3 separate regions of the Homo sapiens genome follow, and all the other regions are linked to region 2. The links come from fine-mapping of genetic effects on gene expression. A gene starts in region 2. Each other region holds a variant in brackets. All regions are shown on one strand. Distances are between the middles of the regions. Region 1 overlaps LOC105370003 (a long non-coding RNA gene). Region 2 holds the start of LINC00173 (long intergenic non-protein coding RNA 173). Region 3 overlaps MAP1LC3B2 (microtubule associated protein 1 light chain 3 beta 2).

The links. PIP is the estimated chance that this variant, and not a neighbour inherited with it, causes the effect. A credible set is the group of variants that fine-mapping cannot tell apart.
Region 1: its variant is the best candidate, but not a certain one, in a credible set for the expression of LINC00173 in naive CD4 T cells (Schmiedel 2018, PIP 0.77).
Region 3: its variant is the best candidate, but not a certain one, in a credible set for the expression of LINC00173 in unexposed skin (GTEx, PIP 0.86).

Annotation. Positions count from the first base shown.
Region 1 is chr12:115,708,789-115,714,993 of GRCh38, reverse strand. All of the region lies in intron 1 of LOC105370003 (a long non-coding RNA gene), which reads left to right. Among named protein-coding and RNA genes, the nearest start is that of LINC02463, 170 kb to the left of the region's middle. RefSeq lists an enhancer at 4,496-4,790. The variant G/C (reference allele first, on the strand shown) is at 3,628.
Region 2 is chr12:116,530,577-116,536,781 of GRCh38, reverse strand. LINC00173 (long intergenic non-protein coding RNA 173) reads right to left here and starts at 3,347. Exons shown (of 3, transcript NR_027346.1): 1 at 3,166-3,347; 2 at 571-662; 3 at 269-429. RefSeq lists an enhancer at 1,438-1,972 and silencers at 3,381-3,430, 3,335-3,536.
Region 3 is chr12:116,566,093-116,572,297 of GRCh38, reverse strand. The region is part of intron 1 of MAP1LC3B2 (microtubule associated protein 1 light chain 3 beta 2); the gene reads right to left. Among named protein-coding and RNA genes, the nearest start is that of MAP1LC3B2, 9.8 kb to the right of the region's middle. The variant T/C (reference allele first, on the strand shown) is at 3,289.

The sequences.
Region 1 (6,205 bases), 820 kb after region 2:
AATAAAAATAATGAAATACATGTACCCCCTGTATCTAAAAGTTTTTCTTTAAAAAAAGATTGTTCGCTGAGAGTTAAATGACAAGAGATTAGGAGTAACCCTTGAAAATGAACAAGATTTCCAAACTTGAACAAGAAGAGAGGGTGGTGGGATGTCGGGTAAATCTCAATACCAATTTAAGTCTTGTCTGGGACTATCTTTAGGGTTGATGTCTAAATTCAGATCTCTTATTCTGTATCTTTTCTTCAAATCCACCTATCCCAAAGCTTCCTGGACATTGGCACTTGTCTATCTGTCAGGCACTGGGGATCCTACAGGTCTCAAATCTAACTTATTTTTTCCCCACTTCCCGAATTTTCTCTTCCGTAACGTCCCTTAGCGTAAGGAATGTCCCATTGTCAATTCAGTAGATCAGAACAAAAATTCAGGAGTCGTCCTGGACCCCTTTCTCTTCCTGCCTCCTCTGTATTCCATCAAACATAATTCCCCCTTTATGAAGGTCTCATGCCCTCCTTCTCTGTTTCCCTAAGTAAGGCACACAAAGTACCTTAGCCTGTGCCTGGCCTGTGGAAGTTACTTGCAAACATTAAATGTTCATTTCCATTACTTCAAAACCTGGGATCATGTAGACTTTTATAAGTCAATAATCAGCTTTTTAAAATGTATTAAGAGACTGTTTATATTAACTAAACTCAGAAGGTGGTTTATCCTCCTGCTTTCTTCTAGGAAGAGATCCCATTATAACCAGAATAAAAGGAATCGTCCCTGGAGAAAAGTCAACTTGGTGTGCCAAAGCAATGCTTTGTAAAATTTGAAAGCAATTCTAAAACTCGTTGGGTTGGGAGGCTGACAAAAGTTTGCCAACTCTTTTGTTTGCCAAGTTAGGTAACATTTTAAAAATTGCTATCTGCAATTACTATCAGTTTGTAAATGTGGCACTTGATTAAAACTGTGGCTCAAAAGTTTTAGTTCTGAAGTGAAGCTGCTTTCAAAGAAGTAGCATCTACAGAGTATCTTCCCATCTAAAGTCATCTTAGTTTTTAAATGACATAATGACCAATTCTTTTTTTTTTTTTTTTTTTTTTTTTTTTGAGATGCAGTCTAGCTCTGTCCCCCAGGCTGGAGTGCAATGGCACGATCTCGGCTCACTGCAACCTCCGCCTCCTTGTCTCAAGCAGTTCTCCTGCCTCAGCCTCCTGAGTAGCTGGGATTACAGGCATGCACCATCACGCCCAGCTAATTTTTTCTGTATTTTTAGTAGAGACAAGGTTTCACCATATTGGCCAGGCTGATCTCTAACTCCTGACCTTGTGATCCACCCACCTGGGCATCCCAAAGTGCTGAGATTACAGGCGTGAGCCACCACGCCTGGTCCATGACCAATTCTTAAAACCCATTTTCTCCCTTCTTATCTCCCCAAGTTTTTGCACCCAAACTTTCCAAATCTTCTCAACCCCCTTCTGCAGGGCTTTAACTTTCTCCCTCTTCCTTCCCCGTGTGTTTCTAGCTGTTTGCCATGCAGATTGGCTTACCCTCCCACCTTCTCAGTCCTTTCCCCACTTTTCTTTCTGGTGGCAGTGGTCTGTTCCTCCCTTCCTCTGGTTCAGCATCAAGAAAGCTCCTTCCTGCACCCTAGTCCAATTATCTAACAAAGGCAGAACTCGTTCTCTGGATAAAGAAGGAAAGACATTGGGAAAAGTGATCCTTATAGCTGGTAGGGGAAGGAGAAGAAAGACTGGCTGGCATGAATTGCTCTTGTTCCATTGCCAAAGAGAATTTTTAATAACAATAAATATAGAAAGAACAGAATCTTACAATAAAGGTCAGTTTTTTGTATTGAGTACTTTTGTACTGAGTACTATATGAACAACTCAGGACATTTTTCTCTTTTTGTCCATTAGCCATTGACTGATGAAAACTTAGCAGCCTTCTGGTTTATCTTCCCTGATTAGTTTTTGCCTCTTTTTTCCCCTAGGTACATTGAACCTGTAGTTAGCAAAGCCCTGTTAGAGCATCCGGATGATCTTCTCATTGTGTGGGTAGGAAGGAAGGTAGCTCAAACTTCCAGCTCTGTTTCTATCTTCTTGTCACATCATCTACCCGTGTTTGAGCTCCAGGTGGAGTCCTTTGATTACAGGGCAATAAACTCCGTGCTCTGTAAGAACTGTCTAGGAAAATGAGAATTTCACTTCCTTGATGAAGCCATGAGCTTTTCTTTTTTGACACAGAGAGGAAAAAAAATCTAAGAGAAATAAAACAAGAAGCAAGACTGAGGATAGAAGAGAGCTTTTTACTCATACAGGTTGAGCATCCCTAATTCGAAAATCCAAAACCCAGAATGCTCCAAAATCTGAAACTTTTTGAGCACCCACGTTACGCTCCAAGGACATTCTCATTGGAGCATTTTGGGTTTTGGATTTTCAAATTAGGGATGCTGAACTGGTAAGCATAGTACAAATATTCCAAAATCTAAAGAAAATTTCAAAATCCAAAATGCTTCTGGTTCCAAGCATTTCAGATACGGAATACTCAACCTGTACCAGTTTGGGCTTGTCAACTCAAATGAATTACACTGTGAGTTTGTGTGTTCTCCATCACACCAAATGACCCCTTCTTGGGAGATTGCATTTCTAATAAGGTGCATCTCCTTTGTACATCTGACTGTGTTGTAATTTACAGCATGTTTCTTTTACAATAAAAACAAGAGACCTTCATTTTAAATGTTTCAAATGTTTTAATTTCTCCAGAATTAACTTCTTTCTTGTTGGCTCCAGGATAGTGAGCTGCTATTTTGCTTCTAATAAAACTGTATTCAGTGGGAGTGTGTAGAGAATAAGGCTCTTTAGACATCTTGGTTTAATAATATGATTAAGTATTTATTGAGAGTCTAATATATGCTAAACATGGTGTTTGGCCATGGTACTCATGTAATTGCAACTCAAATCTGCTAAGGCAGGAATTATTTTCCATATTTTACAGATGAGGAAACTGAGTGTTAGAGGAGTTTAGGCTCTTGCTTGTGGGTGTTGAGATGGTAAGTGGTAGAGCTAGGTTCAAATCCATGTTTCACTCTAAGACACATGTTCTTCCTGTAGACATCTTTCTGGGTAGCATCTGTTATCTATTGTCTTTAACTGACATCTGGTTTGGCTGAAGCTCAAGCTCAGATAATGCAAAGGGAGCTGTGGATTGGAAGAAAAGCTCACTACTTCAGGGGAAGATGTATGGGGTCACACACTGAGTGTGATGTACTCTTGCTAATGCACCCAATTGCCCAACTTCTAAATTAAACTCTTTCTTGTCTCCAAAATTTAGATTTTGTTCAGCTAAGGACTCCTGGGGTGATATGGTGGTAGAGATGATGGTTGTGGTGGTGATGGTGATGGTCATAGTGTAGTGGGGATGGTGGTGATGGTGGAGATACTATGGTGGTGGTGGGTAGAGATGGTGATGATGATGTTGGTGAGGGAGGTGGAGGTTGTGGAGGAGATGGTGATTCTGATGGTGGTAGAATTAGTAAAGTAGTGGTGGTGGGGTGATAGTGATTGTGGCGATGGTTATGGTGATGGTGGAAAGTGGTGTGGAGTAATGGTGGTGGAGATCATAGTAATGGTGGAATTGGTGTTG[G/C]TGATAATGGTAGAGATCTCATGGTGATGGTGGCGATAATGATGGTGGCCGAAGTTCGTTTGTGGGGTTAATATACCCCAGAAACTTGATTTGATCAGTGTAAACAAGTTGATGAGAATCTGGGCAAGTGATAACATCTCCACCACATTTCCATAAGACTGAGGTAGCAACCAGACTCTAATTGGGTAATTGATGGTGCATAATTATTCTTTCTTATCACAAACTTAAGTCTGCTATTTTGGCTTTCCCAATCCTGAGACAAGGAAGCCAAATTAGACACAAGGTTTGTTCAGAGAATATGGAAGGAAAGAAAAGCAAGAATGATCCCTAATAAGCATTTGTACACTCCCATCCTAGGGGGAGACTTACTTACATCCAACCTTACTTTACGTCATCTGTCTTTGTAGGTGCAATCAGACATCTAATCTTTCTAATCTGACAAATTTGGCATGAGAGAAATTTCAAACTCATGACTTATCTGAGGCTTAATTTTCTCAATAGACAAATAATGCTGAGTTTTCCAAATTAATATAAGGATCTAATAAGATAATGTACATAGACTATTCAGTACAGTTCTGGGCCCAAAATATTTATTTTGGAATTGGGATCAGATCTATAAAATGTCATCAAATTAATCCTTACAAGAAACCCCCAAAGAATCCCCATTTTAATGCTATGCAAACTGAGCTATAGCTCATTTAACAGGGGAGTTAAGTAACTTTTAATAGTAGGTAACACTTATTGGTCACATACAGGTGCTATGTACTTCGCTAAACATCACCTCATTTAATCCTGACATCAACCGCATGAGGTAGTACCCTTATTCTCCCCATTTTACAGATGAGAAAACTGAGGCACAGAGAGGTTGCATAACTTGCTCACATGGTAAGAGGAAGATGCAGGATTTTGCACTCAGGTTACTTACTCCAGAATCTACTTGCTTAACTGGGAATTGGAATGGTGGTGAGTCATTGGTCACATGGGGGTGGTGCTGGTTGGGGATCTGAGCAGAAGCTCATACAGATGCAGCTACCGCCTCAGCAGTGTATCTTTCCCTTGCCAGTATTTGCAGCTGATTCACCAGGATTTTCATGCTTCCCAAGGTTGCCTTGACTATGTATATGAGAGGAGTATCCGGGGCCAAGCCCAGCTGCTTTGGCAAGGATGTTTATAGAAGAAACATCTCCTCCACACCCAGGAGGATGTGCTCTTTACACTCTTTGGGCTCCAAGATCCTGGCTCCAAAAGTATCAGCCATGCAAAAAAGAAAAAAAAATTGTACTTGCTCTCTTCAGGGGAAGAAAAAGGCAAAAAAAAAAAAGCAAGAACAAACCTCTCCCATCCATCTGTAACCAAATATATTTTGTGCTTGGTTTCCTTGGGTGGCCTTCTCTTAATGGTTTCTAATTCATAGAGACAAAAAACATAAAACAATTTAAGGCATTGGCACGCTCAGCTCGGCAACCCAGTGTATTCCCGAGGGAGTGCTTTTGGCAGCGACCTCCTGAAGTTGGCCTAGCTAGGAGGCTCGGAGGCTCACAAGAACAGAGGAAGGTTTTTTTTTTTTCTTTCTTTTTTTTCTTGTGCTGTTCCCTGCTTGCTGAGAGATATGCAAGGGAAGTGGGTTGGCTGGGTAATTATCTGGCTGGTAATTACAGCCAGTTGTGGAGGAATACTGCATATTCCGAACGGTCGCCATGCTAGCTGGGAAGAACCCTCACCGAGCAATGGATTTATGGCTGGCCATGCAGAGCAGGATGTATGTTTTGGCTCATGCACTAGGGAGAGCTCGGCCTCTCCCTCTTTCTTTGCCTCTCTCACTCTCTTTAATCTCAACTTCAGAAGGGAAGGAGTTGGTCGTTAATTCATCTGGATTTTGAAATTGGGCTTTTTCATGTGAAAGAGGCAAGGGCTGTGAGGATTTTGTTCATTCTGTCTCTGGTGTCACATCTACTGTATTCAGTTAATATTTACTAAGTGAAACAAATTGGTTTACAAAGAGCATTGATATAATATCAACCGATATTTACAGAACATTTTCCAAATGCCAAAGCCCCATTATAAATAGCTTCCGTGTACTGTGAAGTGGATTCCCATTTTTATCTCTACTTTAAAGATGAGGGGACTGAAGCTCAAAGAGGTGAATAACTTACCTAAGGTTACACAGCTAGAAAGTCAGAGCAGGTATTCAAATCTGGGCAGCCAACCACAATACTATATTATGGATGGATAAGTGGAAGGCTAGATATTGGCATGACAGATGAAAGACTTTCAGAGAAAGTTAACCCCATCCCATTTATTTTTAGTGGATAAGAGAAGCACATGGCTGGATTCCAGGTTTAAGCAGTGAATTTGTAGCAGAGCCAGAGTTTTTGACACTTTGGCCAGCGCTTCTGCCTCTCTCTCTGTTGCCTCATTTTCTCCATGTCAGAGAAGTTTCTAAGTCCTAGAAAAGCTGCACGTTCATACTCATAAACTCTCCCTCACCAGGCCTAGGTGCATTGAGGGAATCAGAGCTGGAACCATCATCTTGACCCCAAGGAAAGTTAACCATCATCCTGGTGTACCTAGGACTGAC
Region 2 (6,205 bases):
TGTCTCAAAAAAAAATAAATAAATAAACTTGAATCACTTTTTTTCTTGACCCCAGGAGCTTTAATGGAATTCCAAGTTGTAGTCCATACATCAGTGCTGAGAAAAGATGATCCATGTCAACTGATTGATTGACGGATTGAAAAGCATTTGTTTTGAGGCAGGCACCGCACTGTGCATTTTGGGGACCCAAATATGAAAAAGACATAGCTGCCTGTGCATAGGAGCCAAATGGTCTAGAGAGAGGCAGAGATCACAAAGCAACATGGGATGCCAGAGTGACTGGGAGTTTATTTGGGGGATATTGATCTGAAGGGTGAATAGGAGTCTCCAGGCAGGCACATGGGTGGCCCATCACCAGTTCACGTGATCTGAGTACATGTAGGATAAATGACCCCAGGCAAGGCTGGGTGGATGTGGCACAGCCTGACCCTGTGGAGATGAGGAATAGTACGATATCCGTTAAATATCCATTCACTAGGGCCCATCCACTGCACCACAGATGTTGCCCTAGAATGGAGTTTAGCCATGTAGTCATTCATTCATTCATCCATTAAAGCCACAGATATTTACCGAGCACTCACGATGTGCCAAGGAAGACTAGGTGCTGGGGAGGCAGAGGTGATCAAGATCAATCTGGTATCTTTCCTTTTGGAGCTTCCATACTGGTGGAGCAGAGGGCCATTAAACAAATACACGTGTCAAATAATAAAGAAATATATAGTACAGGCTGGGCACGGTGGCTCAAGCCTGTAATCCCAGCACTTTGGGAGGCTGAGGTGGGTGGATCAGTTGAGGTCAGGAGTTCGAGACCAGCCTGGCCAACACGGTGAAAACCTGTCTCTACTAAAATTACAAAAATTAGCCAGGCATGGTGGTACGTGCCTGTAATCCCAGCTACTTGAGAGGCTGAGGCAGGAGAATTGCTTGAACCCAGGAGGTGGAGGTTGCAGTGAGCCAAGATCGTGCCACTGTACTCCATCCTGGGCAATAGAGCAAGACTCCATCTCAAAAAAAAAAAAAAAAAAAGGAACTATACAATACAATAAAAGACAACCTAATACACATAAAAGCATCTGCCTGCCCCTCAGTTTCTGAGCTCCCACTTGACACCAAGTGTTGTGGGGGTACAAATTTGGGTCAACATTTTGTGTAGCAGAACTCTGGGGACCAACCAGAACTCCTGAAAACAGGATGCCACTCAGCAGTGACAGCCTCACTTTCCCATTTACTGGGCTTTTTTTTTTTTTTTTTTTTTTTTTTAACATCTCTGGACACCTTGGATCCTGCCAGCAAGCCTCGGGAGGCAGTTTAGGAGTTATTTTCTTTACTTCTCAGGGGAGGAATCCGAGGCTTGGAGAGGAGGAGGGATTGACCGGCCTGGGGTCACACAGCTAGAAAGGCCAAGATTGCTATGCCGTTTTTTTTTTTTTTTTTTTTTTTTTACAAAGAAAGAACAGCGGAGCAAGGTGGCCATTTTATTTTCTCAAAGCCACACTACCTGCTGCTACACAGGACATAAAAGTGCAAAATTCCACCAGGAAGGGAAACAAAACAGTCTTGAGACAGCCATGTCTCAGAGGTGAAGATTGGAGGAGATTTTAATATAGGGTGTGAATTCCAATTCACATCTCTTCCAACGGGACCTCTTTCCGAAGTCCCGGGAACTAACATTCATCAACACCTCTGACATCCCAGAGGATCGCAACATTCCTGCCAAGGGTTATTACTCCCATTTCCCAGATGAAGAGATTGAGTCCCTGCAGCACGCAATTAGACAGTAGCAGAACCAGAATTTGAACTCTGATCCACCCCGATTCTGGGACCTGTGGAGCTCCAGGTACCGAGAGCTGGCTCTCGCCTGGGGCCTTGGAGTCTGGGTAGCTGGATGCTGGGAGAGGCTGCGGAGGTAAGGGCCCAGGGGCTGAGGTTGCAGCGGCTGCCCGGGAATGCGGCCCTTGCACGCCCACTTTTTAACACAGTGCCATCCCTGACAGACACCCTTGTCCTTTTCCTGTGCTGCCCTTCGTAACACCATAAATAAAGCCTTAGAGTAACGTGACCTGAGCCAGGCAGTAAATGATGGCACTGTCAGTTGTACACGACTGTTGAAACAAACACAGACTGTAATCATCGTGCTGTACGGGGAGAAAGACATTTGGCAAATGAGATTCCATTTTCACATTGGTTTGTGCTGAGCATATAAATTTCCTGCGGGCCGGCCAGCATTGGGGATGTGTAATTGATTGCCTGCATTATAATAAACAAGCTGTGACAGGTGATCATTCATCATATTCCGCTGAACGTTCCAGCACACCAGAAAACGGAGGAAGAGAGGGAACGCGCGAGCAAGGGGAGAGGAGAGGAGGAACCTGGGGGAGGGGAGGGGGTCGGAAAGACCGAGTATTCCCGACAGACAGAAAAACCAGGGGAGGGGCGGGGGAGGGAATCCGCTGAGCGGGCGGGGGAAAGTGAAAGCAATTACTATAATTCTTTTGATTATCTAATTTGTTCTTTCTGGCCTTCGTTATATGACCCTCCCCCCCTCCCCCCACTCCAACATAGAAGGTCCCCCACGGGGACTTGGGAAGGCACAGAGAACGCTCCCTCCACGATCGAGGGAAGGAAGGGGGGAGGCAGGTGGGGGAGGGGCCGCGTCTAGTTGTAACCGGAGTAGATACATTCGGGAAAACCTGGGGGGAGAAGGAGGAGGAGGAGGGGAGGAGCGTGTGCAGGACTTAGCTTTGCTCTTGCACTGAGATGCCTCCAGTCGGATGGATAGGAACCAGCCTCTTTAAATACATTTTTTTAAAGGGTGTCTGAAAAACAAGTGAAAAGTTCCTTTTATTGGAGAAAAAGGACAGCATCCAAGTTGGCATCAGATGTGGTTCCACAAGCCTGTCATATGGTGCTCTCATTCCTCCCCCTCGCTCCCTCCGCCCCGCCCCAGCTCCCACCTCCCCACCCCCACTGCAGCCCCAGCCTCTCTGTCTCTCTCTCTGTGCCCTTGGCCCGGGGCTGGGGGTCGAACAGCAACTGCTGGGAAGCACCCTCCTCTCCAGGAGCTCCCACCTAGACAGACAGAAGGCGGAGGTACACTGGCATATGAAGGACAGAAAGACAAATGCAGAGCTCTCGAGCCAGCACACGCATTAAATAAGTACTTACATTATGCAAAAGCCAAGGGCCTCAACAAGGGGGTGAATGAAGAAGGGGGACAAGGAGGGCTGCGTCCCAGACTAGTTTCCCCAGCTCTCACCCTGCCAATTTCCAGCCCCCGCCTCCCTATCCCGCAAGCGTCCTCCCATTCCCTCCCTGGTACCAAGCGCTTAGAGCAGGTGGGAGCCTCGGACCCAGAAGGCTGGGAGCTGAGGAGGCGTGGCTTGCGCTAACATCGGGGGCGGGGCCTGGCTGGGGCTTAGTCGGGGCGGGGCCCACGCCGGAGGGGGCGGGGCGAGCACAGAAGAAAGAGCGTTAGGGGCTCCTTTGCCACTCGTTGCACGCTGCTTCCCAGAGTCTTCTGCTATTTCATCGTAGCCTTAACAACTGGAATCTGTCGCCTTCGAGATGTTCCTAAAGTCACTGCTTTGGGAGAATCTGTTCAAGGGACCTGCTTTCCAAAAGCAATGACATCAGCCCAGCAACGTGATCTGTGTTGTCCTTGAAGGATTAACAACTCATTTGGGTCTCCCAAGAGCCCTAGGAGGTAGCCAGGGCAGGTGCTGTTGTCCCCGTCTCACAACGACCTATGAAGTGCATGTTGGGGCCTTGATTTTACAGGGGAAGGAACACAGGCACAAAGAAACGAAGTTACTCTCTCGGGATCTGGCAATGAAAAAGTCAAAATTTGAAGCCAGGGGTCTTCTGACCTGTTCTTCAGCATCCCTATGAGAACATATACTTTCTCCCTCCAACACTCTCCTCCCATCCATAAGTGCATACAGGTGCTGAATAGGAGGGGCAGAGTTGAGTCTATATTGAATGATTGTGCATCCAGATCCTCACTAAGCCCTCTTGGTTTTGCCTGACACACGTGGCTCACTGTGTGCCCCCTGGTCCAGGCCACCTGCATCTTCCTCCTGGACCACTGTCCCCGCCTCATCACTGGCCTTCCTCTTAATGCTGTTCTCACTCCCATCCACTACCCACCAGCAGCCATGATGATCAATGATGGTCACCATCCATACCCTGTATCAACTGTCTCTCTAGCGCCATCTTTTTTTTTTTTTTTTTTTTTTTTTTAAAGACATGGTCTCCCTCTGTTGCCCAGGCTGGAGTGCAGCAGTGTGATCGTAGCTCACTGCAGCCTTGAATTCCTGGACACAAGCAATCCTCCTGCCTCAGCTTCTTGAGTAGCTGGGACCACAGGTGCTTGCCCCCATGCCCAGCTAATTTTTATTTTTATTTCTGTAGAGATCAAATCTCATCATGTTGCCCAGACTAGTCTTGAACTCCTGGCCTCAAGCTTCCCCAGTTGCTGGGGATTACAGGTGTGAGCTGCCACACCTCTTGCCTTAGCTTCCCCAGTTGCTGGGATTACAGGTGTGAGCTGCCACCATCTTTTTTTTTTTTTTATTTGTTTGTTTTGTTTTGTTTTTTGGAGGCAGAGTCTCATTCTGTCATCCAGGATGGAGTGCAGTGGCATGATCTTGGCTCACTGTAACCTCTGTCTCCCAGGTTCAAGTGATTCTCCTGCCTCAGCCTCCCGAGTAGCTGGGATTACAGGTGCCTGCCACCACGCCTGGCTAATTTTTGTATTTTTAGTAGAGACAGGGTTTCACCATGTTGGCCAAGCTGGTCTTGAACTCCTGACCTCAGGTGATCCACCCACCTTGGCCTCCCAGACTGCTGGGATTACAGGGGTGAGCCACCATGCCTGGCCAGGTCCAGAAGTTTTCCATCACCCCAAACAGAATCTCGGTACCCATTAGCAGTCACTTCCCATTCTTCCCTCCCGTTGGCCCCTGGCAGCTGCCAATCTGCTCTCTGTCTCTATGGATTGCCTGTTCTGGATATTTCATGTAAGTGGAATCCTACGATATATAATCTTTGTGTCTGCTTCTCCCACTCAGCATCATGTGTTCAAGGCTCATCCATGCTGTAGCGCATGCCAGTGCTTCCTTTCTTCTTATGGCTCAGTGCTGTTCCATTGCCTGGATGGACCACATTTTGTTGATCCATTCACTGGCTAGGGGTCATTTGGGTTGTTTCCACCTTTTGGCTATTGTGAATAGTGCTCTATGAACAATTGTGGGTAAGTTTTCATTTGAATATTTGCATTTATTTATTTGTTTATTTATCTATCTATCTATTTATGTTTTGGAGACAGAGTCTCCCTCTGTTCCCCAGGCTGGAATTCAGTGGCGCAATCTCGGCTCACTGCAACCTCTGCCTCCCGGGTTCAAGCGATTCTCCTGCCTCAGCCCCCCGAGTAGCTGGGATTACAGGAGTGCGCCATCACGCCTGGCTAATTTTTGTATTTTCGGTAGAGAAGGGGTTTTGTCACGTTGGCCAGGCTGGTCTCGAACTCCTGACCTCAGTCAGGACCTCAACTCCTGATTCCCCTGCCTTGGCCTCCCAAAGTGCTGGGATTACAGGTGTGAGCCACCGCGCCTGGCCTGAACCTTTGTTTTCAATTGTTTGGGGTACATACTTAGGAATGGAACTGCTAGGTTCTGCAGTAACTCTGTGTTTAGCTTGTCAAAGAACCGCCACACTATTTTCCTCAGTGACTGCCCATTTTACATTTTCACCAGCAGTGCACCAGGGCTCCAATTTTTTACATCCTTGCCAACCAACACTTGTTATTTTCTGTTAAAAAAAAAAGTTTGCGCCGGGCACAGTGGCTCACGCCTGTAATCCCAGCACTCTGGGAGGCCAAGCGGGGTGGATTGCCTGAGGTCAGGAGTTCGAGACCAGCTTGACCAATATGGTGAAGCCCCGTCTTTACTAAAAATACAAAAATTAGCTGGGCGTGGTAGCGTGTGCCTGTAGTCCCAGCTACTTGGGAGGCTGAGGCAGGAGAATTTGCTTGACCCTGGGAGATGGAGATTGCAGTGAGCCGAGATTGTGCCACTGCACTCCAGCCTGGGCAACAGAGCAACACTCTGTCTCAAAATAATAGTAACAATAATAATGTTTGCCATCCCAGTGGGTGTGCCTAGCTCCATCTTTTAGATGAGATGGGGTGAGTTCAGGGTCCATATGG
Region 3 (6,205 bases), 36 kb before region 2:
AGGAGACAGGAGCTGGACAAAGAGTAACAGATACCCTTGATTTCCTTTCATATGCAATACCAAAACAAATAGACGATGCCCGTGCTGCTTCTGGCAATCTATCTGCTGAAGGTACAACTCTTTGGTTTTCTGATTGGCCTGAGCAAGTGTCGATCATTTTATGATCAAGGTTATGGATAATCTAAAGGTCTTGTCTGATGTCTATAGAGAGGACTCTTTTTTATTTTCTTAGCGGCAGAAATTGTGAACTCTCGGTAACATTCAATCACACCCTTCTTTTCCTTTATTTGCAATGTAAGAGGACAAGTTTCTCCCTAACCCTTTTTTTTTTTGTAACGGTCATAGCTATAGAAAACAAACAAGAAGTATGTTGTTTTCTACAGCTATGACCATTAAAAAAAAAAACAACAGTTGCTTTAAGCAGGAACTTCGCGGACATTACTTTGTTTCTCTCCTAGGTCTTTTTAGGACAAAGGAGAGACAGTTCAGAATAACGTCCCTAAGAATAGCAGTCCGTGGCCGGGCGCGGTGGCTTACGTCTGTAATCCCAGCACTTTGGGCGGCCGAGACAGGCGGATCACGAGGTTAGGAGATCGAGACCATCCTGGCTAACACGGTGAAATCCCGTCTCTACTAAAAATACAAAAAAATTAGCTGGGTGTGGTGGTGGGCACCTGTAGTCCCAGCTACTCGGGAGGCTGAGGCAGGAGAATGGCATGAACCCGGGAGGCGGAGCTTGCAGTGAGCAGAAATCGCCCCACTGCACCCCAGCCTGGGCGACAGAATGAGACTCCGTCTCAAAAAAAAAAAAAAAAAAAAAAAAAAAAAAAAAAAAAAAAGAACAGCAGTCCCTTACTCCCATCTATTCTCACGAGAAGGAAAAATTCATTTCATGGTAGGATCAGTGGACCTAGGTCACATTTTGAGACTGCCCCAAGGTTCTTGCACAACAGTAGTCAGAGAAACCTGGCAAATGCTGGGTTTCCTTACTGCAGGACTTCTCAGAGCCTTTAAAATGCTAGTGTTTTACTGTGCACTTCCAAGAGGAAGACGTGAGTGGGTTTCCCACCTTTCCTCAACCACAGAAGCCATTATGGGCAGAGCTTTTCCAAGATTGTTATTCCATAGTGTACTCTTCAGAAAAAGCTGGACTACATGGTCTTAAATATGTCCTTAGATAAAATCAGACCCTTACAGAATTGCAGCTTTAAGCCGTTTGTTTTGGCCACTTGTAGATTTTCTTGTATTGAACCTCCCTTAACCTGAATTGAGGCACATTACAGAGAAATCATGGTATAAATATGCTATCATTTTTATCACAAGGAAGTTGCAATAAAATTGCAACCGATAGAAGAACATTTCTTATATACCTTGTTACTCACACAAACTGTGTTTTCCCAAGTGATCAGTTGCCTTACACAGGTGCTTCTCGACTTATTAATACATCCTGGTAAACCTATCATACGTTGAAAATGCATTTAATTCACCTAACCTACCAAACATCATAGCTTAGCCTAGAGTATTACTTTGTTTTCATGTGGCTGATAAAGACTTACCCAAGACTGGGTAATTTATAAAGAAAAGAGGTTCCACGTGGCTGGGGAGGCCTCACAATCATGGTGGAAGGCAAAAGGCACATCTTACATGGCAGCAGGCAAGAGAGAATGAGAGCCAAGTGAAAGGGGGAACCCCTTATAAAACCATCAGATCTCGTGAGACTTACTCACTACCACCAGAACAGTATGGGGGAAACTGCCCCCATGATTCAATTACCTCCCATTGAGTTCCCCCACAACACATGGGAATGATGGGAGCTACAATTCAAGACAAGATTTGGGTGGAGACACAGCCCAACCATATCACCTAGCCTACTTTAAACAAGCTCAGAACACTTATATTAACCTACAGTTGGGCAAAATCATCTAACACAAAGCCTATTTTATAATAAAGTGTTGAATATCTCATGTTTATTGAATGCTGTACTAACAGCAAAAAGCAGAATGGCTGTATGGGTACTTGAAGTACAGTTTCTACTGAATGCATGTTACTTTTGCACCATCATAAAGTTGAAAAATTATAAGTTGAGCCATTGTAAATTGAGGATCATCTGTATGCAACCCTGTGAACTTTAGTAATGAGGGTATTTCCCTCTTTGCCCCTTCTTCTGAGCCACTGACAATAATGATATACAACTTTGTGGGTATGCATTTTGGGTAGTGATTTTATTTTATTTTATTTTATTTTTGAGATGGAGTCTCACTCTGTGGCCAGGCTGGAGTGCAGTGGCGCGATCTCGGCTCCCTGCAACCTCTGACTCCTGGGTTCAACCAATTCTCCTGTCTCAGCCTCCCAAGTAGCTGGGACTACAGGTGCGTGCCACCATGCCCAGCTAATTTTTGTATTTTTAGTAGAGACAGGTTTTCACCATGTTGGCCAGGATGGTCTCGATCTCTTGACCTTGTGATCTGCCCACCTAGGCCTGCCAGAGTGCTGGGATTACAGGAGCGAGCCACCATGCCTGGCCTGTTATCTTTTATTTTAACATTTTTCCTAGCTTTATTTTTACTTTATCCCCATTTCTTTGATTTGCATTTTTATTTTGTTGTATTGAGGTATGTATATAAGCGCCATTCTACTTCTTTGTTGAAATGTAGTGGGACATCATGATAAAATAAACACATACCTACGTGCATATTCCAACTAGCATATATTAAATACATAGTTACATACAAGGTAGCTGCTAGGGTCTTAAGGAAATAGAGATGAACAAGTTATGGTCCTTGTCCTTGAAGGATTTACAGTTTTGCCAATGAAACAGATGTTAAGTACATTGCCACAATCCACAGGCCCAAATAACAACTACTACGTTGTGGGTTAAGTAGTAAGAGAGGTATGTTTAAAGTGCTCTGGATAAGCCAGAGAGAATGCATAGAAAGACCACATAGAGACAGGAGGAGATGCCTGAGGACCCCCAGCTATTTTAGCTCCCCACTGTTTAGGTCTCTTCAGCATCAATCTCTGGACAGCTTCTGGACAGGTGAGTGAGCAATTGTCTTAGTCTGTGTTCTGCTACTATAACAGAATATCATAGACTGGGTAATTTCTAGAGAAAAGAAATTTATAAAGAAAAGAAATTGGCCGGGCGCGGTAGTTCACACCTGTAATCCCAGTACTTTGGGAGGCCGAGGTGGGCGGATCATGAGGTCAGGAGATCGAGACCATCCTGGCTAACACCGTGAAACCCCATCTCTACTAAAAAAAATACAAAAAGTTAGCCAGGCGTGGTGG[T/C]GGGTGCCTGTAATCCCAGGTACGCAGGAGGCTGAGGCAGGAGAATGGCGTGAACCCAGGAGGCGAAGCTTGCAGTGAGTGGAGATGCGCCACTGCACTCCAGCCTGGGAGACAGAGATTCTGTCTCAAAAAAAAAAAAAAGAAAGAAAAGAAATTTATTTCTTACAGTTCTAGAGGCTGGGAAGTCCAATATCAGGGTGCCAGTGTCTGGCAAGGGCCTTCCTGCTGCATCATAACATGGTGGAGGGCATCACATGATGAAAGGGCAAGAATATGTGTGTCAGCTCAGGCCTCTCCTCCTCTGCTCATAAAGCCACCAGTCCCATCATGGGGGCTGCACCCTGATGACTTTATCTAATCCTAATTACCTCCTAAAGGCCCCACATCCAAATACCATCAACATATGAACTTGGAGATCTAAGTTTCCAGTACATGAAATTTGGGGGACACATTCAAACCATGCAGTAATCCTTCAGGTGATTCCAGCCCCAGCCTGAAGTGGAGCCAGAGGGCATCCCCCAAGCTCTGCACAAATTACAGACTTGTGAATAAAGTACATGTTGTTTTAAGCTAAAAACTGAAAAGATTTTAAAAAGTGCTATGAGGACCCAGTGAAGGAGCAAATAAGTCTGCAGGGCAGAGAGACAGGAAGAAGAGTGGGAAAAGCTCCAGAGATTGTTAGGCTGTGGCCACATGTGAGGTTCAGGGCATTCGCTCACTTGAAAAGATATGCCAAATTGTGTGTACGTGTCTGTGCATTCTTTTTTTTGAGAAAAGGGCCTGTTACTCTCAGCAGATTCTCAGAGATGTTCATAATCCACAAAGGGTCGCATCTATTGCCTTGAAAGGATCAGAGACAATTGCCAGGACGACAAAGAATGGAAAAAGAGCTGCAAAGCTATCAAGGCATTGGAGTCTGGTTTGGCAAAAACATAGGTTAGGCCTGACTGGAGATTCACATTTACTCACTTAATCATTCTTTCGTTCAACAAATAATTTACTGAACACCTAGTGCAGATCAGGCATTGTGCTGGGCATCTGAAACACAATGGGGAACATGATCGTTTGTCCTTTTCAAGAACTCGCAGGCTCCAGACACTTCCCCAGAAGGTTTTCCTAATCCCCAAATCCCTTCCCACTGTTCTATAAAATGAGTCTGTCATTCCTCCTCTAAGTGTTTTGGGTTCCATTTTCTTCTCTCCTGGCAACCGAAACCCTTAGAGGGTTTACATATATATATATATTTTTTTATTTTTATTTTTTAGACAGAGTCTCACTCTGTCACCCAGGCTGGAGTGCAGTGACACAATCTCGGCTCACTGCAAACTCCACCTCTGGGGTTCAAGCAATTCTCCTGCCTCAACCTCCTGAGTAGCTGGGATTACAGGCATGTGCCACCACACCTGGCTGATTTTTGTATTTTTAGTAGAGACCTGGAGTCAACATGTTGGCCAGGCTGGTCTCAAACTCCTGACCTCAAGTGATCCACCCACGTCGGCCTCCCAAAGTACTGGGACTACAGGCGTGAGCCACCGTGCCTGGCCAAAAAAAAAAAAAAAAAGATTTGCAAAGCAGTCAACAAGATACAAGTGACTAAAACTCTCCCAGGAATTAATTTTATAAGCTCATTTTGGTCTTTTCTCAATCAGCATGAAATTACCATGATTTCTTTCTTGAGAAAGAAATAAATCCCCTCAAGGAATAAAAAGACTTCTTTCTAAGTTGAGAACCTGAGGGTGGACATAGCTAACATGTAAAGCTGGAGAAAGGAGTTAGCCATGGGATAGGAGGTGCTTTTACTTGCCTATAATTTCAATTTGAATCTTGGTGGTGTGCAAACAGCATCTCTCAGCACTCTAAATCTCCAAAAACCCAGGCACCTTTGAAGACATGAATTAGCCAAAGAGCTAACTTGCTTTCCTTACCTCCTTTGTCCTTTCCCCTCCCTCTCCCTTCTCTTCCTTTCCGTTTCTCTTGCTTTCAAAATTATTCTCAAGACATACAGAAAAGTTTTATCCTGCAGTTTTGAACTCAATTCTTTTTTTTTTTTTTTTTTTTTTTTTTTTTTTTTTTTTTTTTGAGACAGAGTCTCACTCTGTGGCCCAGACTGGAATGCAGTGGCACGATCTTGGCTCTCTGCAACCTCTACCTCCTGGATTCAAGCAATTTTCCTGCCTCCGCCTCCTGAGTAGCTGGGACTACAGGTGCCCACCACCACGCCCAGCACATTTTTGTATTTTAGTAGAGACAGGGTTTCACCATGTTGGCCAGGCTGGTCTCGAACTCCTGACCTCAGGTGATCTGCCTGACTCGGTCTCCTAAAGTGCTTGGATTACAGACATGAGTGACCACACCTGGCCTCAATTCTTGTTTTTTTTTTTTTTTTTTTTTTTAATCACTGACTCACAGTTCCACGTACTGTATCTCAGATTTTTCATCTCTGAAATGGGTATGATCATACAAGAAAACAACATTTGTGGATATTTTAAGGATTTGGGGTGTTTTGTTTTGTAGAGGTTACACACACACACACATATCTGATTAGCCTCTAGGCAGAGTGGGGACACAGAAACTTCCTCACAACAATCTAAGCAGAGAACATCTTCTTCCTTTACCTGCTGGTGCATTTGTCAATATATTTGGTTGAATTAATCTGCTTAATAATCTAGCCTGCAGCTACCTCAGACTCACTCTTGAAACACAAAACACAACCTTCTCTTTCAGGCAAGGTGCTTCCAACTCCTGGTAGTTATGAGTAGTGGGAAAAGAAGAAATGCATTTTGCTGCATGTTTTGTTCCCAGGACACAGGTTCAAGCTTGCCCTTCACCCCCAAGCAAGTTTTATTCTCTGGAAATCTTCCTTGAACATTGGCAGGCTCAGAGAATCTCTGTTCTCGATGAGCTATAAACTGGCATT